Linked DNA regions of Homo sapiens. Changing the gene in region 1 together with any one later gene gives a genetic interaction. Each region holds a gene or a part of one and is shown in the gene's direction. Other genes may lie near its edges. The genes, in order: EPAS1, HILPDA and G0S2.

Evidence for each region.
Region 2: of EPAS1 (region 1) and HILPDA, changing one suppresses a phenotype caused by changing the other (phenotypic suppression), as found in Homo sapiens cells (one study listed by BioGRID).
Region 3: of EPAS1 (region 1) and G0S2, changing one suppresses a phenotype caused by changing the other (phenotypic suppression), as found in Homo sapiens cells (one study listed by BioGRID).

What each region holds. Positions count from the first base shown.
Region 1 is NC_000002.12:46,300,020-46,308,064, forward strand, and holds part of EPAS1 (endothelial PAS domain-containing protein 1), read left to right. Parts: intron 1-8,045.
Region 2 is NC_000007.14:128,450,151-128,458,877, forward strand, and holds HILPDA (hypoxia-inducible lipid droplet-associated protein), read left to right. Parts: upstream 1-5,727; 5' UTR 5,728-5,873; intron 5,874-7,050; 5' UTR 7,051-7,118; coding exon 7,119-7,310; 3' UTR 7,311-8,268; downstream 8,269-8,727. UniProt on the Homo sapiens protein: Increases intracellular lipid accumulation. Stimulates expression of cytokines including IL6, MIF and VEGFA. Enhances cell growth and proliferation.
Region 3 is NC_000001.11:209,670,133-209,677,318, forward strand, and holds G0S2 (G0/G1 switch protein 2), read left to right. Parts: upstream 1-5,279; 5' UTR 5,280-5,417; intron 5,418-5,520; 5' UTR 5,521-5,552; coding exon 5,553-5,864; 3' UTR 5,865-6,258; downstream 6,259-7,186. UniProt on the Homo sapiens protein: Promotes apoptosis by binding to BCL2, hence preventing the formation of protective BCL2-BAX heterodimers.

The sequences.
Region 1 (8,045 bases):
GCTGCAGAATGGCAGGGCAAACAGCGTGTCCTTCACCATCTAGAGCCCCTTAAGGGGTTGTCCAATTCCTATTGGGCTAATCAGTTTGAGACTCATTTACTTTTCGTGCCTGGGTCTGTTTGCTGGCTGCAGGCTTCTTTAGGGACCAAGATGTAATTAAAATATGTGAACCAATACATTGAAAGTTGGTGTTGTCATGTAAGTGACTGCTGTAGCTTTTCTGAGTGCCTCACAAGGGCGATGTGACAGTGAGGGGGCTCTCTGCTGATGATTCTGCCCACTAGTTCTTACATTTTGTGTTTCTTTGGTTTAGCAGAGCAGTTTCTTCCCCCAAATGCAATATGGGCAGAACATTTGGAATATTCGTTCTAACAATGGCCCGTCAAGAAGTGGGCAGATGATTTTGTCCCAGAATGTTCACACGTCGATAAATATGTTAATGTTTAATAATAAAGAGTTTGCTTTCTAAATGTTAGTTGGCTGGGTGTCCTTGATAGTACCAGTTTTGGTGGTAGTGGGCATTTGCGGTGACATCACAGATGTCAGAAACTGAAGCCTGGTGGGTGGGGGTACTGCACTTTCACTCACCTTTTTGTGCACGCATCTATCAGGAATGCCTGAGTCCTTTCACTGGGAAAAAAATGTGGAAATTCTGGGATTCACGGGGTTTGAGGAGTGGTTCAGGCAAATGTAAATGAGATCCTTGGATAATCAGGGATCAAAGTCCAGTCCCAAAGCCAGACCTAGGTCCAGACACCTTCCCAGAGTGCTTATACAGTAGTGCTCAGTACAGGGCTAGCGTGGAAGGGGAATTGGAGACACCTGGATCTCCAATCTCCCCCTCCTTCTGACAGCTGGACTTAGTTGTTCCTCTTCTAAAATCAAATCAAACTCCATCATTATTCCAACTCTGAAGGGAAAAAATATTGCTGGACAGTTTCTCTCAATTTAAACATATATTTTAAATAAATATTCCCTCCACACTTGATATGTTTCCATTGTATTACCAGCAGCGCAGGATGATACAGAATTGATGTAACACATTGTTGGCTTGAGTATTTAAGTTTTAATTCATACAGTTTTCATGAAGTTCAAAAGAATGCCATCATTTCAAGTTTTTTTCAGTGGTGCTTATAGGGAGCCTAGAATTATTTTATAAGAGACCATGGAAATCATCTAGTCAGACTTTTCTCTTTCTGGATAAGGAAACTGATGCCGAGAGAGGTTAAAAGACTTCTCCGGTCACAAGGAAAATTAGTGCTGATAAGAGTCAGGGCTGGTCGCGGTGGCTCATGCCTGTAATCCCAGCACTTTGGGAGGCTGAGGCTGCGGATCACCTGAGGTCAGGAGTTCAAGACCAGCCTGGTCAACATGGTGAAACCCCGTCTCTATTAAAAACACAAAAAAATTAGCCGGGCGTGGTGGTGGGTGCCTGTAATCCCAGCTATTCTGGAGGCTGAGGCAGGAGAATTGCTTGAACCCGGGAGGTAGAGGCTGCAGTGAGCGGAGATAGCGCTGCTGCACTCCAGCCTGGGCAAGAGTGAAATTCCGTCTCAAAGAAAAAAAAAAAAAAAAAAGTCAGAACCCTGGTTTATTACTTTCAATTAAGTATGTATTTTCCTATTGTTCACAGGAGAGTACCCCAGCCCTGAAATATCTCTAGATAGTGAGGATGATTTCCGAAGGAGTGCCTTCCCCATCACAACTCTCAAACCGCTGAACCTTATAGAAAGGAGATTTGCTTTTCTGGATAATTATCAACACCTTTAGGCTGCAGTAGAAGTGATGATTCTGTTTGCTTTTTGAAAAAAAAAAAAAAAGGAAGCAGAGTTGAATTGATGCTGTTCCCAGTGTCTGTAAACTTTGAGAAGTATGAATTCATTGTTTTAGTTAGAAAAAAATCTACTTATATAGGTAGACCTCATTAAACAAAACCAATGCAAGGACCGCTCCTCAGTGGAGCAGATTGCTTTTTGAGGTAGAGAACATTCAAGCAGCTGCTAGATTGATTTTTGTACTGGGTTAGTTGGCATTTTCACTAGGAGTGAAAACTGTGAGACTAAACAGTTTAATTTACTTAGAATGTCCCTCTTTCTCTCTGTGTGTGTGTGTGTGTGTGTGTGTGTGTGTGCCCGTGCGTCGGGGGGGGGGGCAGTGGTGATTCTCAACTTTCTAGGAATTTATTAAGTAAAGTGTTTAGAAATGGAAGGAAACAATTAGATAATTCTCAGTGCTCCAGGATTTTAGGCTCCTACATTTGAAAATACTTGCTGTCATTAATTGTCTTGAGATTTAGGCTTTTCCACTTTTCAGGAAATCTAGTAGTTTTTTGGGGGTTTTGTTTTGTTTTCCTTGGTTCTGCCCTATGCCAACCTGCTAGTTTCCCTTTTTATTTTAGCCTGATGAATCTTCCCTTTTGCTTTCAGTACTAACCATTGCTGGTAGTTCTTAACAGGTCTAGCTTTTACCAATATTGTCAAGTTAGCAATATTAGCTCCTGGGGCCCTAGTACTCTGTACTTCCACCCCTCTCCCCACCAGTACCATGCTGCCTGTTCACATGATGGACACCAGCTCTGATATTCACCCTAAGATATAATCCATAAGATGACAAACTTGTATTCAACACCGACTCCTACTCTGGCTAAAATGCTGAAGAGAATACTAAGAAATAGGGGATATGGTCCTGGTCATCAAGTTGCTTAGTCTGATTAGGAAAAAAAAAAAAAAAAAAAAAAAAGAGATACAAGGAAGCTTAAGTAAAAATATAAGGGGTTGGGCGTGGTAACTCATGCCTGTAATCCCAGCACTTTGAGAGGCCGAGGCAGGCAGATCACGAGGTCAGGAGTTTGAGACCAGCCTGGCCAATATGGTGAAACCCCATCTCTACTAAAAATACAAAAAATTAGCCAGGCGTGGTGGCGTATGCCTGTAGTCCCAGCTACTCAAGAGGCTGAGGCAGGAGAATCGCTTGAACCCGGGAGGCGGAGGTTGCAGTGAGCCGAGATCGTGCCACTGCACTCCAGCGTGGGTGACAGAGCGAGACAACGTCAAAGAAAGAAAGAAAAGAAAGAAAATATAAAGAGCTGACAGCCTACATGCTTTTCTGTAGAAATCTAATATTTTGAAGCAAAAGATAAGCTCTGAGTAGCATTTCAGGTAATAACCGCCCCCCTCCCCAACACACACATAAGCACACACAATTATTTAAGAGTATTATGTGTATTTAGAGGTGGAGAAATTTGTTCCTAGTGTCCCCGGAACCACACAGAGTAGGTGCTGACCACCAGCTTAAAGACTGGCTCAGAAGGAAGGTCAAATGGGAGAAGGCAGTCTTTGAGGGCTAACGAGAGGAAAGAAAACACACAAGGCTCCCTATGGTGTATCCCTTATCATGTACTTCGACACCATACACAGGAAGGCCCCTGAAATGGAATGTTTGCTGTTCTTTATACACTTGCTTTGGGTGGGGACATGGAAAGGGAGCTGGTGGGGCTCCACAGACAACAGGGGTAGTAATTTCTGTTCCCCTGAGAATATCAGTGGAGACAGCTATGACTCCAGGAAGGCCAAGAAGGGAGAGGGAGCTTCTTAACCAGGCTTTGTGAATGGGTTTCAGAGGCTGGCGTGTAAATCTCTGAAAATGTGTGCAAGACATTATGTATAGAAGCAACTTGTTCTAAAGGAAGTCTGTTCAGCTCTCCATAGCCTTTCAAAGGTTCTAGGATATGGAAAAGGCAAGCCCTTGCTCTTGGATGTCTGATTTGGTGACTGTCTTATGTTTCAGAGTCTTCCTGTTCAGATCCCAGACAGTTCTTGTGTTTTACTGCCATTGCCTCTCCCTGTGGTGAAGAATGGGGAGGAGGAAGGTGTGTGTATTTAGTAAAGGTTCTGAGGTGCCGCTTAATCTTCCCTGTCCCTGGCTGGCGTGTCCGTCCACCTACATGTCTGCCCTCAGTCTTGGAAGGACGGGAAGCCAAGTGCCCTGCACAGGGTAAATACTGGTATGATTCATTTTATTAATGCTTCTGAAAAATGACTGTGAAAACAAATTTATCCTCAAATGTTCCATCATCCTCAAACAGTTATTTGGATGACCTTCATGTTCTAGGAATGTATGTGGTCTTAATAGAAATTATATTTTGCATCAGGACAACACAAAAAACTGACAGTCTTATTTGTGCCAGTGCCGTCCTCAGAACTTTACATGGATTAACTTTTTAATCCTGTGAGATAAGCCCTGTTATTATCCCCACTTCATTGATGGGAAAGCTGAAGTCTAGAAGGGCTAACTGCCCAAGGTCGTATAGGTAGCATGGGCAGAGCTGCATTCAACCTGAGTAAAGGAGGTCCCCAGAGTCTATACTCTCAATGGGTGTTCCATACGCCCTTCCCTTACTGAAGATATCTATAAAGTATTTAATACTGCTTCTGACTCACAATAAGTGCTCTATAAATGACAACTGCCTTTGTTGTTTTCCTTGTAATTATAATTACTTTTCTTTTTTGTGATTTATCACTTGCATCAAACCTCACAAGCAGATAGGGATTGAAGATCTGAAAGGCCAACATGGAACTCCTTGAATTTCTTATTTTTCATGGGTTTTCCTAGACCCTGACAAGAGGTGGTTCTCTCCTGCCCCAAGAAATTCAAAGCTTTCCACATCCCACCCTTCGCTGGTGGCAAGACTTCAATAATTACTTCAGCCTTCGGACTCCATTGTGCAGGAGAACCTGTTAGAAGCTCTTCCTCTGTGGCTTCTGAAGAACCATCAAGATGCACAGGACTTCCTGTGGCTCTTTTGATCTTTTGAAATTGCAAGCACAGGAAGGAAAGAATGGATAGGGGGATAAAGAATAGCTATGATTGTTGTGATAATAGCATGTTGCATTTCTATAGAGCCCTTTCGCTGATGAGCCCTGAGCCTTAACAGCCATCACACTGTTGGCCCCTGCACTGTGAACCTAGAGGGTACCTTGAGTTTTTCTAGTGCTGCCAAACAGAATTGCATTGACACATACCTTAATCAAGAGAGAAGCAAGCCGTGTTGGCAACTGTGCATCACAGTCGATGTGGTGGTCATCCATGGGATGCCCCTAATAGCATCTGTAATTTTCAAGTAGATGTTGGGTGTAATTTGGTGACCCTTGTCTGTTCCCACTGTTGGAAGCCCCATAACTGATCTGATGAAAGCATAAAGTGAAGAAGAGTGGCGAGACCCTTTGTGAGATACCTGGAGCTGAAGAGTCAGGTGTGGAATGGACAAGAATGTTATCCACTTCTAAGTGACCTTGTTTTTTCTAATTTCTTAAGAAATACCTGTTTGCTTGACTGCCTTAGGCTGTTTGCAGGGGCCACTTGTACGTCAGCAAAACTCTTACTAGATGACATCACTGCCAGAAGTTCCACATGTTTCCAGGAGGCACATTTCCCACTGCCCCCACTCCCCCGAACTTGGAAAGATTCCTCAGTTTTAAAGTTATAAGTAATTTCCATGCCAGATAATGATCCTGTGAACAGATCCTTTTCTCATGTGGAAAAATATTTCAGAAAGGGTGTCTTGTCAATGAGAAAAATGACCCCATTGAAACATATGTTTATTTGCCATGTACTCATCTGACGTTTTGTGAATTCTATAAAGCCATGGAAGTGGATTGTTAGAAGTGTCTCATACACCCCTAGTGACTTCTTGAACTATCCCCCCATCCCCAGCCATGGAACTCTCCTATTAAAAAAACTAAGAGATAAGTGGTAGCAATCTTAACAAATTAGTGATTTTATCTGGTTAGGCCGTGTAATCAAACACGTGGGCAGGAAAGTGGATCCATTATGTTGTACTCATGATTGTGGTGCTGAAGGTAACCCCCATTGCCCTGTAGGCTGCCCCCAGAAGCAGGGGGTACAGCCAATAGTATTCTTAGAAGTTAATCAATTCTGTAACGGGTTGAGTGTTTTGGTCTCATTTTTAGTCCGAGGTGCCCTGATGCTGGCCTGTGACTAAGGGGAGTCAGTGGCTTGTTATGAATAAGAGGACACATGAGCTGAATCTGAGAAAGTTCAGAAGCATTTTATAAGTTGTTTAAAATACATCCATTAAAGTATATGATTATTTTTTGGTAATCATTTAAATCATTGTGCTGTGTGTCTACCCAGACAGTATTTATCTGTCTCTCGATGTTGTATTAGTATAGTATTAAAAAAATACACACATTTCACTTTTGATAAAAACTTTGCATACTGTCACTACTTTGTATAAGTTTTTTCCTGACTGCCTCTGGTTAGGGGGCAGGGAGCAAGAAGACCAGCATGCTTTCCTTCCTTTATATTTGGGAAATGGAGGTGCTGAGAGAAACAAGCCACACTGTCTGAAGTAAAACCTAGAAGTGGACCTGGTTGTCCATGGTGAGGGAAAGCCCATATGTACCACCTTGGGCTCCAGTTACAAGGTAATGAGCCATGAGCACAAAAGGGTGACTCAAAATTCAATGCCAGCCATTCTCATTACTAATGAGCAATTACAGCAAATATTTACAGGCCTCCTTCCTACCTTTATGACTTCCTGTTACTGAAGCACTTTGGAGTATTGAGAAAGATTGTCCTGGAAAAATACGTCACACACAGTTGCAGGAAAGAGTGCCTTTAAGCACACATAAAAACTCGGTTACTTGGCTTTGTTTATGAATTCCACATAGAAACAACAGAAAATTGTGCCTTTTGAGGAACTGCTTGAGAATCCTTCCTTCTGCATTTCAAGACAAGATTTTAAAAATCACATATATCAAATATATGGGGAAATGAGACACAATGTTTTTAGAGAGTGTCTAGAAATAATAGGACTGTGCAAGTTAGTACAGCAAAATTTTGGGTCAAAGCATGGGTCATTTGACAAACTCTCTTTATGAACATTACCTCTGCAATATTTTTCTAAATGAAAACAATCACACTTAATAGAATTAATCAGGATGGGAGCTAGAAGCATATAATTCACTTTCCACAGATTGGAGTAAATCCTCATAATGCCCCTTTCCTGTGTATTTAGTTAAAAAAGCACTCCAGTGAGATTGCTTTCGCAGTAAGTTTCTGTAAACCACTGTACCCTTGTATTTCTCTCCTGTGTTTCCAAGAGTTCTCAGATGCTATTTTCGAATGGCAGCGTTCACTCCAGAGCTGGCTGAGGTCAACGAAGCTAATTTTGGTGCCTTGGTGCCCAGGGTGAAGGGAGAGAGAAGTCCTCTGCAGAGCCAAAAGGACTCTCTGGGGCCTGGGTTTGGAGCAGTGTGGTGTTGCTGGACACACCACATTTCACCTTTAGAACCTTTATTTGTGTGCTTGCACAACAAATGTTTACCCAGATATTAAGATAAGGAAAGTATGAAGGTCACATTTCACTGGTGACAAGAGAGCTTCTATAAATGTAACCATATCGTTGTGCAGCGGGAGTCTGTCTTTTATTCTGTACCCGGGACTTAGGGGGAATTATTGGTGGGTGGGGCATGGGAGTTGAGGCTCTTCTTGGTTTTCTGGCTTTCTTGCTATCACTCTGTTTGTCTTGCCTCAGCTGATGTGCGCCTCCCATTTGGTAAGGGCCTTTGTCATGGCCAAGACATCTAAAGAAATCCTAGTCTGTGTGGCTGGGCACTGTGTGGTCCCCTGACTCTCTGGAGTCTTCCAGAGTTCCATGGAAATTAGTGCCCCCGTGCATTTCCCTGCCGACTGACTGGAAGGCACCCTGGCTGCTGAGATCGCTTTCCTGGTCCCCCAGAAGAGGTCCACATGGTGCTGATCCTGCAGCTGTTTTAGGCCTCCTCAGCGGGATTGTCCTATCCTCGGAGCACAGAGAATCTTCAGAGTGGGATAGGGGTTTCTTTTGTGGATTTGGGTTTCTCTTAGGGATCTCCAAAGATTAGCTAGACACTCAGGGCCTCAGTAAAGACATGGGTCCTTGGTCTAGTTTTCTTCCCAAGGGCAGCCACCATGGCAGTGGGAGTTCACCTTGCTGACTGCAAGGGACCCCACCTCACCTCTATCGCCCATTCACCATCATT
Region 2 (8,727 bases), on another chromosome or scaffold:
TTTGCTCACTGTTCCCATCTGAAATGTTTACCAATTTTTCAGTTTATCTTGTTATTTTTACTTTTCTAAATCAACCATTATTACTAAAAATAGTTTTGAGTAGTCATAATTTGTTTAGATACATCCATATGTTTTGTAAATATTTCCTTACCATTTTTTCTTGCATTTCCCTATTTCCTTTTGGGTTCAGTTTTCTTGTGTCTTAGGTTCATTCTTCAGTAGTTTCCACGGTAAGGGCCTACGGCAGCTAACTCTGTTTTTGTTTGTCATCTGACGATGTCTTCAACTTGCCCTCCTTTAAAGAAAATAATGACTTTATTCAGATATAGTTCACATATCAAAATCCACCGTTTTAAAGGATACAATTCAATGGTTAAGTACATTCATAGACTTGTATAACTGTCAGCACTAATTTTAGAACATTTCATCACCAGCCCACACACCAAAAAAAAAACCACCCTGTACCCACTAGCAGTCATTCCCCAGTCCCCTCTCCTCCAGCCCTTGGCAACCACTTACCTACTTTCTGTCTCTGTGGATTTGCCTTTTTTTTTTTTTTGAGACAGTCTTGCTCTGTTGCCCAGGCTGGAGTGCAGTGGTGTGATCTCGGCTCACTGCAACCTCTGCCTCCTGGGTTCAAGCGATTTTCCTGTCTCAGCCTCCCAGGTAGGTGGGACTACAGGTCAGCACCACCATGCCTGGCTAATTTTGTCTTTTTGGTAGAGACAGGGTTTCACCATGTTGGCCAGGCTGGTCTCAAACTCCTGACCTCCAGTGATCTGCCCACCTTGGTCTCTGTGCTGGGATCCTCAAAGTGCTGGGCTTACAGGTGGGAGCCACTACGCCCAGCCCTGGATTTGCCTATTCTGACATTTCATATAAATGGAATCATACGATATGTACCCTTTTGTTTCTGGTTTCTTTCACTTAGCATAATGTGTTCAAGGTGCATCCATATTGTAGCATGTATCAATACTTCATTTTTTATGGCTGAATAATATTCCATTGTATCACATTTTGTTTATCCTTTAGCCAGTTGACGGACATTTGGGTTGTTTCTACTTTTTTGGCTATTATGAATAATGCTGCTATGAACATTTGTGTATAAGCGTTTGTGTGTGAACATACATCTTCGGTTCACTTGGGTATATATTTAGGAGCTAAACTGCTGGATCATACAGTAACTCTATGTTTAACTTTTTGAGGAACTATTCTAAAGCAGCTGCACTATTTTACATTCTAACAGCAATGTATGAGGGTTCTGTTTTTTCTACATTTTCATCAACATTTGTTCTTTTCTGGGTTTTTTTGCTTGTTTGTGTTATAGCCATCCTAGTGAGTGTGAGGTGGTGTCTCATTGTATTCTATTTTTTATGTTCATTTTAACATAAATGTAGCATACTGCTCACATACTATAAACCCTTTTCATTTAACAATATATTGTGGAGATCTTGTCGATATATACAGAACTTACTCTCTTTTTTCTGGCTTTATGGTAATTCACTGTCTGAATGCACCATCTTTTATTTAACCAGTTCTCTACTGATGGGCTGTTTTTTCCAGTCTTTCATTATCACAAACAGTGCTGCAACAGTGCTACCTTTAAACACTCCATTCTCTACATGTGGAAGGATAAATCCTAAAAGTGGAATTCTGGGCTAAAGGGCATGTGTATGCTTTTATTTTTATAGACATTGCCAAATGGTAGTCAGTGGTCTTTTTTAACACCTCAATGGTCTTGAGGTGTTTAAAAAACAAGTGGGGGTCAGGGTAACAATTACTGACAAATTGATTTCCATACTGAATGTACCAGTTTATACTTACCAGAAATGTAAGTACATGTTATTTAAATGAACACTTGATGATAAGATCAAATTTGTGAAAATACTTGTGTTCTTAGTATGGTACTCTTGTGTGGGTTGACTTCAGAATCACTTCTTTTTAGGGGCTTTGGGGGAAGGGCAGCTTATAAAAAGCTTTCCTTGGTTGCAGCTCCAAGGAGGAGGTAGCACCTGAAAACGGCTTCTCTTGGCGCCCTTATCTACATTTCCTTGATGAAACAATGGGTACTCACTGAAGATGCTGGGTAAAATATTCATTCATTTATTCCTTCAGTCAACAAATATTTATCAAAAGCCTACTATTTGGTGCTAGCTGCTGGAGATGGAATGGAAACAAAATCAGACCAAACACTCCTTTCACTGACATTTTCAGGCTTTTGAAAGGACACAGACATTAATACAACTAAGGGTAAAGTAACACACTGGGAAAGAAATGCCTATCATGCCACTGGAGCCCGGAACAGGGTCCGAGGGTCAGCAAGGGTGACCAGAGGAAATATGTTTGAATTGAGATATGAAAGATGAGTAAAAGACTAGGTGAAGAAAGTCTCTTCTTCCTCTGGAAGAAAAAGCATAGTTAACAAATAAAGAAGGCTGGGTATGGTGGCTCACACCTGTAATCCCAGCACTTTGTGAGGCTGAGGCACGTGGATCACTTGAGGTCAGGAGTTTGAGACCAGTCAGGGCAGCATAGAGAGACCCCATCTCTACAAAAAAAAAAGAAAGAAAAGCAAGAAAAGAAAGGAAAGAAAGGGAAGAAAGGGAGAAAGAAAGAAAAAGAAAGAAAGAAAGAAAGAGAAAGAAAGAAAGAAAAAGAAAGAAAGAAAGAAAGGAAAGAAAAGGAAAAGAAAAGAAAAGAATTAGCTGGTGTGGTGGTGGCAAAGAAAGAAAAAAGAAAGAATTAGCTGGGTGTGGTGGTGTGTAACTGTAGTCCCAGCTACTTAGGAGGCTGAGGTGGTAGGATAGCTTGAGCCCAGAAAGTCAAGGCTGCAGTGAGCAGTGATCGTGCCACTGTACTCCAGCCTGGAAAACAAAGTGAGACCCTTTCTCAACAACAACAACAAATAAAGAAGAGAGGCAATAATACCTACCTCATAGCATCGTTAGAAAAATTAAATAATACATGTAATGCATTTAGCAAAATGTTCAGCACGTATCAGTTACTTGAAGAATGCTTATTTTGTTTCCACTCTTTCTTTCTTCTTTTTTTTTTTTTTGAGATGGAGTTTCCCTCTTGTTGCCCAGGCTGGAGTGCAATGGTCTGATCGCAGCTCAGTGCAACCTCTGCCTGCCAGGTTCAGGTGATTCTCCTGCCTCGGCCTCCCAAGTAGTTGGGATTAAAGGCATGCGCCACCATGCCTGGCTAATTTTGTATTTTTAGTAGAGAATGTTGGTCCATGTTGGTCAGGCTGGTCTCGAACTCCTGACCTCAGGTGATCTGCCCGCCTCAGCCTCTCAAAGTGCTGGGATTACAGGTGTGAGCCACCATGCCCAGCTCTTTTTTTTTTTTTTTTTTAAATAACCATAGTGAATGTTAAAATCCCAGTTCCCCAAGCAAAACATTACCACCCTACTTATGTACTTACTTCTAAACTCTACCCCACACTGCCTTGGGTTGTTAGTTATCTTATCTTATTCAGGTCTTGTTTACTCAACCAGGTGACAAGCTTATTTAGAACAAGAATCTGGCTTTATACTTTTTAGCAAAATAATAGCTACTATTTGTTGAGCATATATGACATACTCTTTATGGGCATTATTTCCAACCCTCACAACAACCCTGTTTTACAGATTATTTTCCTCATTTTACAGATAAGGAAACTAAAGTTCAAAGGGGTCAGTTAGCCTGGCCAAGGTGTTGAAGGCAGGACTAAATCCTGATGCAGGTAGCTACATTTGTAGCTGACAGAATGGTAAAGCATAGAGCTGCCCTCACCCAAACCCTTCTTATTTCCAACTGGCATGACCTTTAGACAATGGCAGGGAATATGGGGAGAAAGAATTGTTGGAGAGGTGCCCATCCCTTCTTCCAGCTGTGTGAAGTATAAATTTAGAACTCAAACTAAGTAGAACTCAAATGGTCATTGTAGAATTCCTGCATTCATTCAGCAAGCCTAGGCTGCTAATGAGCAAAACCCCTCACTGGGAGTTTTGTAGTTGATGATACAGATAATGTTAAGATTCATAGAATGTTTTTTATGTGCCAGGCATTGTTCTAAGCGCTTTATATGGATTAATTCATTTAATATCAGGTTAAGACTGTTATGATCTCACAGAACAGCTGAGGAAACAGAACTACAAGAAGGTTAAAGGGTTCGCCCAAGGCCTTCACCTGGCAAAGTAGTGGCGTTTGGATCTGGCAGTGATTTCGCAGCTTGAGACCTATTTAATAACAGTGTGAGAGAAGGGTCACACAGTCAAGCAAAAAAACAGACGAAACTCTGGTATAGCGAAGGACCAAAAGTTCTGCGGGCTGAGCAGGAAAGTTGGCTCCAAATGTCTGCCTGCCTGCCAGCAGACCTCCAGCCCCAACCTTCTGCTTTCCCGGCTTCCCCACCCCCTCATTCCCGACAGACCACAGCCAGCCAGCCAGGAAAGGAGGGGAAAGGTCGCAGTGGGGATGGCTCCTCCCTTCCCGTCTTAGAGCCCTTCTTAAGCAGAGCCCGCCGAGCTCGCTGAGATGTGGAAAGTCACAGGGTTCTTTCCCATCCGGCACGGGCACTTGACCCGGGTACACGGAACCGCCAGTTCTAAAGCCACCAGCGGCCTTCCCTTCCACGGCGTGTACACCCCTTCCCGGGGGTCCTCCCCATTCCCAGTGTCTCTCCGGGACTCTACTTTCTGAGATCCCCCGTTGCGTGCTCTCAAGACAGACCGCACAGTCTTGGCTGGGTGGGTTCGGGGGTGATTAGTAAGGCAGCCTAGCCCCCCAAATCTGGACATAAGGCTGGTCTGTGACCTCCTGGCTCTTTAGTTCAAGCCGAAAGCACCCTTAAAAATCATCTAGCGGCCGGGCGCGGTGGCTCACGCCTGTAGCCCCAGCACTTTGGGAGGCAGAGGTGGGAGGATGGCTTGAGATCAGGAGTTCGAGACCAGCCTGGGCAACATAGCGAGACTGTCTCTATTTAAAAAAAAAAAAGAAGAAGAAGAAGAAAAATCATCTAGTGGCCAATGTCTTCATTACAGATGAGAAAACCGAGGCCCATTTAAATACCAAGTGACTTGCCCATATGCAGTTAGGATCCCACACCAGGGCCAGGAGTATTTCACGTTTTCTGAAGCGACACGACAAACTCTCATAGAAAGCAGAGCTTGCAGAGCTTAATATGTTGCACAAGGGCCTCACCATTCCAGAGATACCGATGGCAACTGAAACTCGGGATTTGGAATCTTGGTACAGCTATGAAGTGAAACAAAACCAGCTCTTCAGTCCTTGAAATGAAGAAAATAACGAGTGGGGTAGGGGTCTGGTGCCCTCTGACAATTTAGTGCACCCGAAATCTCTGGGGAAGAACCCACCCTTCACGGCGGGGCTTCACGGACACGAAGGCCATCGGTGTTTTTCACCTACTGGGGAGAAGGGATATGTGCTCTCTGACTCCTTCAAATGTTTTCTACAGCAGAGATGGCAGTCGAGATTAATACACACGCCTCGTCTCACTCCAGAACACAATGACTCAAAACCGCACGACGTGTACTTTTGGAAACAGCTCCGCGGGAGAGCACCCGGGACAATCCCCAAACCCCGTTGCCCGCGGGGTGGGGCCGCGGACGTGCGCCACGTCGTGTGCGTCCCGGGCGTGCGTGCGGCCTCCAGTGCGCGTGCGCGTACCCTCCTGGGGCGTGCTCGCGGCTATAAGGGGCGGAGGCTGGGCGGCGTTGCTCTGCGCTCTGCGGCTGACGGCGCTTTTGTCTCCGGTGAGTTTTGTGGCGGGAAGCTTCTGCGCTGGTGCTTAGTAACCGACTTTCCTCCGGACTCCTGCACGACCTGCTCCTACAGCCGGCGATCCACTCCCGGCTGTTCCCCCGGAGGTGAGCGGCCCTGTGGGCTTCCCCGGCTCCCCACCCCCATCGCTAGAGTGCTCGCCGCGCTAGCAGCCTCGCGTTCCAGGGCTGGGGGTGCGCCGCCGGGATCCTCTCTGATCGCCCACGCCCCATCTGGGGTCCCCATTCAGCCGTCAGCCCTGTTTTGTCCTAAGGTGGTCCTAACTAGGATCCACGTGGCCCATCCCACGCCCACAGGTGCTGAGTTAGGCATCCCTGCCATGCCCTCCCAGAGCACCTTCACGATCTCCTTGCTGTCCCAACACTTAGCGTGTTGCGTGTTAACTACCCTTTGTCTATAAGGTTTGCAATGTGGCCCTAGTATCTTCCAGGGTACCTAACACATTGCAGATATTCATGGTATGTTTGTTAAATAAATGAACTTGATAGATTTGACCCTCATAGAGTTATTTGGACTTGCAAAAAGTTTGTAGTTAACTCCAATCTGTGATGTGGGAGAGACTTCTAGGCAGGTTCCTTTCTCCAGGGCATGTTCTTATATTTCCCATTACCCACCACCCCCCTGCAAAAGGACTGGGCCTATTTCAGGAAGGTGACTGATGCCTGCACTGTAGCACAGGGGTTGTGTATTGTGCCTTGCAGGAACAAAATTTTCAATAAAGTAAATGTTTGTTTGTTTGTTTTTGAGACGGAGTTTTGCTTTTGTTGCCGAGGCTGGAGTGCAATGGCGCGATCTTGGCTCACTGCAACCTCTGCCTCCCGGGTTCAAGCAATTCTGCCTCAGCCTCCCGAGTAGCTGGGATTACAGGCATGTGCCACTATGCCCGGCTAATTTTTGTATTTGTAGTAGAGACAGGGTTTCACCATGTTGGTCAGGCTGGTCTCGAATTCCTGACCTCAGGTGATCCACCCGCCTCGGCCTCCCAGAGCGCTGGGATTACAGGTATGAGCCACCGCGCCTGGCCTAAGAAAGTAAAAGTTTTAAGAAGTGTTCTTGAATTAGTCCAAGAAGCAACACTGGCTCCGCAGCCATGAAGTTTGCAATGTAAAATATTCTTGGAGAGTTGCTGTGCAACTCCCTGGTCCCTGTGTCCCTCACTGGCTAAGCCTCTCCTTCAGCCCTGTGAGAGGACAGAAGAGTCAGGGCTGGATGCATGCATATCCCCAAAAGGCTATAGATTCATCCTTTCCTCTTTTTTCTCAGGGTCCAGAGGCCTTTCAGAAGGAGAAGGCAGCTCTGTTTCTCTGCAGAGGAGTAGGGTCCTTTCAGCCATGAAGCATGTGTTGAACCTCTACCTGTTAGGTGTGGTACTGACCCTACTCTCCATCTTCGTTAGAGTGATGGAGTCCCTAGAGGGCTTACTAGAGAGCCCATCGCCTGGGACCTCCTGGACCACCAGAAGCCAACTAGCCAACACAGAGCCCACCAAGGGCCTTCCAGACCATCCATCCAGAAGCATGTGATAAGACCTCCTTCCATACTGGCCATATTTTGGAACACTGACCTAGACATGTCCAGATGGGAGTCCCATTCCTAGCAGACAAGCTGAGCACCGTTGTAACCAGAGAACTATTACTAGGCCTTGAAGAACCTGTCTAACTGGATGCTCATTGCCTGGGCAAGGCCTGTTTAGGCCGGTTGCGGTGGCTCATGCCTGTAATCCTAGCACTTTGGGAGGCTGAGGTGGGTGGATCACCTGAGGTCAGGAGTTCGAGACCAGCCTCGCCAACATGGCGAAACCCCATCTCTACTAAAAATACAAAAGTTAGCTGGGTGTGGTGGCAGAGGCCTGTAATCCCAGCTCCTTGGGAGGCTGAGGCGGGAGAATTGCTTGAACCCGGGGACGGAGGTTGCAGTGAGCCGAGATCGCACTGCTGTACCCAGCCTGGGCCACAGTGCAAGACTCCATCTCAAAAAAAAAAGAAAAGAAAAAGCCTGTTTAATGCACAGGTGTGAGTGGATTGCTTATGGCTATGAGATAGGTTGATCTCGCCCTTACCCCGGGGTCTGGTGTATGCTGTGCTTTCCTCAGCAGTATGGCTCTGACATCTCTTAGATGTCCCAACTTCAGCTGTTGGGAGATGGTGATATTTTCAACCCTACTTCCTAAACATCTGTCTGGGGTTCCTTTAGTCTTGAATGTCTTATGCTCAATTATTTGGTGTTGAGCCTCTCTTCCACAAGAGCTCCTCCATGTTTGGATAGCAGTTGAAGAGGTTGTGTGGGTGGGCTGTTGGGAGTGAGGATGGAGTGTTCAGTGCCCATTTCTCATTTTACATTTTAAAGTCGTTCCTCCAACATAGTGTGTATTGGTCTGAAGGGGGTGGTGGGATGCCAAAGCCTGCTCAAGTTATGGACATTGTGGCCACCATGTGGCTTAAATGATTTTTTCTAACTAATAAAGTGGAATATATATTTCTACTGTGTGTCATGTTGACTTCTGCTCTTGAAATTCGTGGTAGGGAGGGTCTTAATTTCTAGACCTGAGGTTTAATTTTAACATCTCAATACTTTGGAGCAGGAAAGTGCTTAAATCACTTTGTTTAAAACATAGTATCAGTAGACTTCTGAATTTGGGGGCAGAGGCAGTTGGGTCTGCCATGTATCAACCAGTTATGTGAGCCTAGGCCACGATTATTGCAGGCCTGTCATGACTAGATCTGTAAAGAAGAAGAAAAATGATCACCACTTCCAGCCCCTCTCCTTGAGTCTCTGGGGCAAAGAGGACTATCAGTCCAGGAGGCTGTGGGCTTTTTCTTTTGTACTCTTCAGCGTGTTTTACTTACCCACCAAAAAGGCTGCTTAATTCAGATTGTTCTCAAAGTCAGTTGGTAAAGTGTCCACACCACACAGATGATTATATCTGCTCTCCCAGATCTA
Region 3 (7,186 bases), on another chromosome or scaffold:
TGGACCTTACTAGAAGCTACCTAAATGTCACCTAAGGAATGCAAATGTCCCGGGCTGGGATAAAGCATCATGGAAATTGCCGACGTAGAGCAAGAGGCAAAGACAATTGAATAATAACAGCCATCATTTAATGATTGCTTCATTTGTGCCAGAAACTGCCTAAGTCCCTTACAGAGCTCTATCTCATTCACTCTTCATCATATCTGTTTCATAGGGGCTTATCATCATCACCACACCCCATTTAATAGGGGCTATCATAACTCTCACTTCACAGATACGGAAGTAGAAGTTATAGAAGTTAAGTCACTTGCCCAAGGTCAGGCCTTAGCAAATGGAGGAGTCAGGATTTGGAGGAACCCAGGTTTGCTTGACTTTAGAGCCCTATACCCTTAAGACCAATTGGCATTTGAGCTTGGGGAAAATTCCTTGTGCTGACTCAAACTTGTAAAGTATATTGTTTAATCTGGAAGTGGTATGTAGGCAGCAGGGTGCAGGTAATTCTAACCACACCACCCATGGCTATTCAAGGCTTCCAGCACAGTCTGCATGCCCCAGCAGCTGGTGGCTCTGCTTGACCAAAAGTTATGAAGGACAAAAGCAGAATGCCTATAAAGTCTGTTCCTTTGCCTTGATTTGTACCACGGGCAGGCTGGAGGGTGCCCAGAGTGAGCCAATGGCTACAATGTCAGACACTAAGTTGGGAGTGGAAGTGAAAGGTGAGGAGACCAGAGTGGAGGAAACTAAGCCAAGTTGCCAGGTCTTGGGCAATTTCAACACCAAGGCTCTGAGCCAAGGACAGGCTACTGTGCTTGAAATAACTTCCCAAGAGAGCCTTAACTGGTCACTTTGCCCTCTCTATCTCAGCACTGACTTTTAGGTCAATGTAACTAATATTGATTAGCCTCCTATTCTATGTTAACACCATGAAAGATACAAAGCTTTTGTCTTCCACAGAGCTGAGGCAAGCCCACAGGAAACAATGACAGAGTTGTACAAAACGGTAATCCATCCAGTGCCAGCCTGTAGAGTACAAGCCCCAAAGGCAACTGAAATTCACAGAAAGGAGAGATCAAGGTGTGCTGCCATGGGCAGTGGTAGCTTCTTGGAGCACAGGAAATTGAACTTGACCTCAAGGAAGAAAGGAAGACAAAGTAGAAAGAGGACAGCATTTCAGGTAGAAACAACTGTGTGAGCAAAAATAAATGAAGCAGCAGCAATGCGAATGAATTGTTTCTTGGCCTGTGAAGAAACCTCTCTGTGGAGCAAAGGGCTATTGTGGGAGAAGAACAGGAGAAGATCGGACCATAGAGAGCCTGAATTCCAAGAATACTAAATCAAGCAAATTCAACATGCAGGATCCAGGAGTCCATTATGTGGGCAATGAGAAATGATCTTGGCCTTTAAACAGGCAGTTGACAATAAAAAATTAAATTTTAGGAAGATTCATTTGGTGGTAGTGTTTAAGATGGATTAGAGGAGAAAGGATTAAAAGCAAAAAAACTGTCCCCTCAAAAACCTGAATGCTTCTTTAAGCATCTACTAAAAGTTGGACTGCATTCAAAAACAAACAAACAAACAAACAAAAAACAGTCCCTTCCCTGCCAGGCTTCACAGTCCATGGAAAAGCCATTCATTAATCCCATAGTTACCCATTAAGGACCTATTATGTGCTAAGAATTATACTGGGCACTGGGGACACAGTGAGGAGCAAACCAAAGTCCCTATCCTCATGAAGCCTATCCTCCAACGCACATGGAAGACAATATAAAACCACACCATTAAGTACATCCACATAGAATCAGGTAACCAAGTGCTATGAAGAAAAAGAAAGTAGGGCACTGGGTGGAGAGTGGTGGGATGCAGTAGTCAGGGAAGGCCTCTCCAAATAACTTCCATGATATTTCAAGCCCAGAGAACAAATGAAACGGAGATGTCACTGCTAGAAATAAGGATATTGAGAAGAAGACTTAGCTTGTAAGAGTATAGAGAAGGTAAGGAGTCTTGTTTTAAGTGTGTCAAGCTGTGATAATAGCAGTGTATCCACACAGAAATATTTAGACTCTAGAACTCTAGTCTATAAGACCAGAGGAGACAGTGGCTACACATATAAATTTCAGTGTCTTCCACTGATATCCGAGTGATAAGCAACTTCCTTTCTAAAACTATGAAAGTAACTAAGGGTCTAAAAAAAATTTCTAGTGCGGTAGTCTTAAAACTACAAATAGTTTTGTCATATCTCCTATGATGACTCCCTCCCTTCAGCTGCCTGGAGCCCCAGGGGTGGGCAGTGACTTTGTGTAGGCAGCAAGCAGCCGGTAACAAAATAATAATTATTATTGTTATTATTATATTATAATAATTGTAACAATAACAATTATTATTGAAGCTCATTTACAACTAACCATCCAAAAGACCTCTTTCCCCTGTGTCTTCAATCCCCAAGGCAGAGGGGTAGGGACAGTTCTATCCCTCCTCTGCACTTAACCCTTGAAACACATGCACCCCTTTGTGACTTTACCCTCTGCAGATGGCTCTGAATGTCTTAATGTCTGAGAGAAAGGGATTTAGAAAGCAAAATATAAAAATTTTAAACTAGTCCTTCCTACCTTCCTAGAAGTGGCAAGAGTTAAATGTTGAGATAGACTCAAGGGTAGGATGACTATTTCAGTTTGCCTGGAAGTGTTTCAGTTTGCCTGGAAGTATCTCAGTTTTAGTGCTCAGTTTTAGCAGGAGTCCTGCATTTCAGAGAACCCCTCAACCCTGAGCAAAATAAGATGGTTGGTCACCCTATGGCTTGGTTTGACCATCATCGCTATAACCTGTATCTTACCTGCATGCATGACACAACACAGTGCTTTACTTCCCTAAAAATGACATCAGCCCCACTAAAATATATGTTTAGTTTCCAAGCCCTACCTAGTCACCTTCTACCCTAGGAGCCAGGTTCTCTTTTCCCACCCAGACAGAGGAGCTGCACTCAGAAATTCCTAGACATGAGTTAACACTGGATTCCTTAGCCTTCTACTCCCATCATCTCCTGCTCAGCCCCAGCTACCACCTAAACTAGGAAGATCAAGTCTACCAGTGACCTCCGTCCATGGCACTTGCTGCCCCTCCTCTGTCCAGCTCTTACCAATATAGCTGCTGGAACCTGGAGGTCAAAGTCAAATTATCAAAAAAAGGAACTGAGCTGGTGATGTGCACTAACACAGCAAATCACAGGAAAGGGGAACCCCAGGTAAATTACAGCCTTCTGACCTAGGAAGACGTGTGGTTTGCGTCTCTGAGTTACAGAAACACAGGAAATGCTTACTGGACCAGTCAATTTCAGAATTTTGGGTCCCAAGCTAGGCTGACTCACCTTCAGAATGGAAACCACGTGACAGCCCTTATATCAGGGCACACATCACATGCTCTTCCAGAAGTCAATGGGTTTGGAACCCTCACAGATATTGGGAAAGCTCACTAATCATTTCTGCCAGTTATCAGAGGTTGCTCTGAAACTATAAGGAAGATTCAAAGAAAATGCCAAGACTGATATTAAACTTGGCAGGAACCCTTGTTACAGAATTTTCCTGCCTGACAAGGTTAAAAGAACAATAAGCAGGAAACACAGTCCTCCAGGAATAATCAATTCTATTTGGCCCCTGGTCACCTTCACTCAGACTAAATTCTAAAACATAGAATTTCAAATAAGCTATTTAGATAACCTTGACCATTCTCCACACACAAGCCCTTGCCTGAACTATTAATAGTCAAGGCAAAGGGTAGTTGTTATTGCTGCCTTTTTAAACTGAATCATCTGAGAAATTGCTTCAGACCCCCAAAGAAAGATTACTGTTAACAATTCAAAAACTAAAATATTTGATCCCTGAGACAGCCTTTTCCCCCGACCCGCCCTTCAGGGCTCAGTCCGACCGACTGCAAAGGCTGTTGCAAGATTGCATCACTGACCTTTGCAATTTTCTGGCCAGTTTGATTTCCCCTTCTTTCCCCTGCCCCCTCCCTTTCTCTGCTTAAAGGCCTTTGGCCAATTTGCCTCTCCTTTTCCCCAAGTTTGCTAACCCTTTGGCCAATTTGCCTCTCTTTTTCCCCAAGTTTGCTAACTCTAGCATATCCATAACCAAAGCCAAACTAGAACGCTCCCTCAGCCCCAGGTGATTACAGCTAACCCTGGTCAAAATCAATCCTACATCTTCACACGTCCAAGAGTACTCACACTCTGGATTCTTACCTAAGCTGTCTACTACACGCCCTTCTGCCCACAAACTGCTTCAAAGCTGAAGTTGAGCTGGAGCAGTGAAGTTGTACCCCCAAACCCAGGAGGGTGGCAGAGAATTATTGAGGAGAGCATGAAATACTTCCATTCTAAAATGGCAGATGAACTTCTACCAACAGCCCCTTCCATACTTGACCCCCTACCCCCAAGCTCCCAACTCCACTTCTCAAGTGGAAGTGAGAACAATTTGAATTTGAAGGCTCTTCCCTGATACACGGAAGTACATAAGGAAACAGCTCGCAGGCAAAGAGACTAATCTCTCTCTCTTTCTCTCTCTCTCTCTCTCTCTCTCTCTCTCTCACACACACACACACACACACACACACACCTCTGTGCATAAAAGCACCATCAATGAATAGTTTTCTATCAACTGACTCTAGTTATACATGCATGTACCTCTAAATAAAACCAACCAGGCAGGAAAGAAACAATATTAGCACATATTGCTTTATCCAAGCGTAACCTGTTCTGTCCTGTTACCCAGATCCTTCCCCCTTGCCTTCTCCTCTCTGATCCATTGCCACACACGTGGGAAGGTGACAACCCTTCCGAATAAAAATGAAAGCTTTCTTCTTTAGATGGAACCCCCAAATTCCCTCATTATTTATAATGTCAGGCTGTCCTGGACAAGGGAAGCTGTGCACCCGCTGACACCAGTAAGAAGGTTGCCGCCATGTCAGAGATGTCCGCGGACACCTCCCTGGGCTCCGGGTCCTCCCCTGCGCTCGCCTGGAGTGGGACCTTCGCGTGCACACTGGCCTTCCCACGCGCCCCGCTGCGATGGCACCCGCGCCGGGCCCCCTAGCTCACACAGTCGGAGCGTGCTCAGCGCGTGGCCACCTCCTGCCAGGTCCCAGCCGGGTTCCACCCCCTCCTTTTCCCCTCCTCTTCTTCCTCCCCCTCCGAGTTCCCCTGGCTCTGACCGCGCTGGCCTGGGCCGGAGAGCCCAGGAGGCGTGTCTCAGAGAAAAGATATAAGCGGCCCCCGGACGCTAAAGCGGTGCCAGCGGCGGAGTCTCCAACTGGGAGAGCTGCAGCTGCCGAGAGGAGGAGAACGCTGAGGTCGGTCGGACCAACGGACGCGCTGACCGCTGCCAACTGCAGCTCGCGCTGCCTCCTGCTCGCGCCGTGCCACTAAGGTAGTCCGCCTTTCTATGAGCCCTCCCCAAGATTAGCTGGGTGCGGGGTGGTGGGAGCCGTTCTTTGGTGGCTGAAGCCCCTCTCCTGCTGCTCCTCCTGCAGGTCATTCCCGCCTCCGAGAGCCCAGAGCCGAGATGGAAACGGTCCAGGAGCTGATCCCCCTGGCCAAGGAGATGATGGCCCAGAAGCGCAAGGGGAAGATGGTGAAGCTGTACGTGCTGGGCAGCGTGCTGGCCCTCTTCGGCGTGGTGCTCGGCCTGATGGAGACTGTGTGCAGCCCCTTCACGGCCGCCAGACGTCTGCGGGACCAGGAGGCAGCCGTGGCGGAGCTGCAGGCCGCCCTGGAGCGACAGGCTCTCCAGAAGCAAGCCCTGCAGGAGAAAGGCAAGCAGCAGGACACGGTCCTCGGCGGCCGGGCCCTGTCCAACCGGCAGCACGCCTCCTAGGAACTGTGGGAGACCAGCGGAGTGGGAGGGAGACGCAGTAGACAGAGACAGACCGAGAGAGGAATGGAGAGACAGAGGGGGCGCGCGCACAGGAGCCTGACTCCGCTGGGAGAGTGCAGGAGCACGTGCTGTTTTTTATTTGGACTTAACTTCAGAGAAACCGCTGACATCTAGAACTGACCTACCACAAGCATCCACCAAAGGAGTTTGGGATTGAGTTTTGCTGCTGTGCAGCACTGCATTGTCATGACATTTCCAACACTGTGTGAATTATCTAAATGCGTCTACCATTTTGCACTAGGGAGGAAGGATAAATGCTTTTTATGTTATTATTATTAATTATTACAATGACCACCATTTTGCATTTTGAAATAAAAAAACTTTTTATACCATATCTCATGTAATTCCTGAGAGGTGTGGTGTCCTGGGGTGGGAAGCAGGGAGGGTGAGCAGGTGGGCGATGGTGATGGGTTCTTACCTGAGCACTGCAGAGGGAGCAGCTTCCTGAGGGTCAGACACTTGCTTCACACCTAGGAACTGTGTAATAAGTTACTACATGCATATAAGTCTGTTGAGGACTTGTTTTTCCTTCTTGTTAGGGGTGGGAAGAGAGAAAATTTTATAACTTCCGTGAGATTTAGCATTTTAACATCAAAAGGTAGATCAACTTCTGAGCTACAGTGAGTAGGAGATAACTGATTAATTCTAAGGCAGAAAAGCTCTTTGTTCCTTACACCTGTGCACCAGAGGTTCCCATGGCTGATACCTTTTTCTTCCCAACTATATTTTAGACAGACAGACAGAGAGAAGGAAAGAAAATGAAGGAGGGAGGTCTGGAGGTGAAGGGAAGGAAAGAAAGGAAAAACTATCTACCTGGCAGGAAAAGAGATAAGCTCCCAAGAACACCAAAGCAGATGATGAGTCTAGCTCTACCCAGCCTTCCTCCCCACGAATCCAGATCATAGTAAGAAACTCTGGGCTAGAAAGAGAAAAAAACCGGTTGTTACATATCTGAGTCCTCCTCCTCCAGTGTACAGAGCTTCATCTGTAGTAATAGCTAATTCAGTGACTCTATAGGGCTCAGCAAAACAAATTTTAAACTTTAAAGAAGTAGCCAGGAGCCAGAGGCATGGCCTTGATGCTAGTCTCCTCACATTTTTCATGTCACCTGTCCTAATCAGGTACTGACACTTTACTCCTTTCATCAACAGCTATGCATTTTTGCCAAACATATCACTGGCTCACACCATTGCCTCTGCTCAGACTCTCTCCTTCGTCCAATGCCCTACACACATCTCCATTTCATTTCTGCCAACTCAATT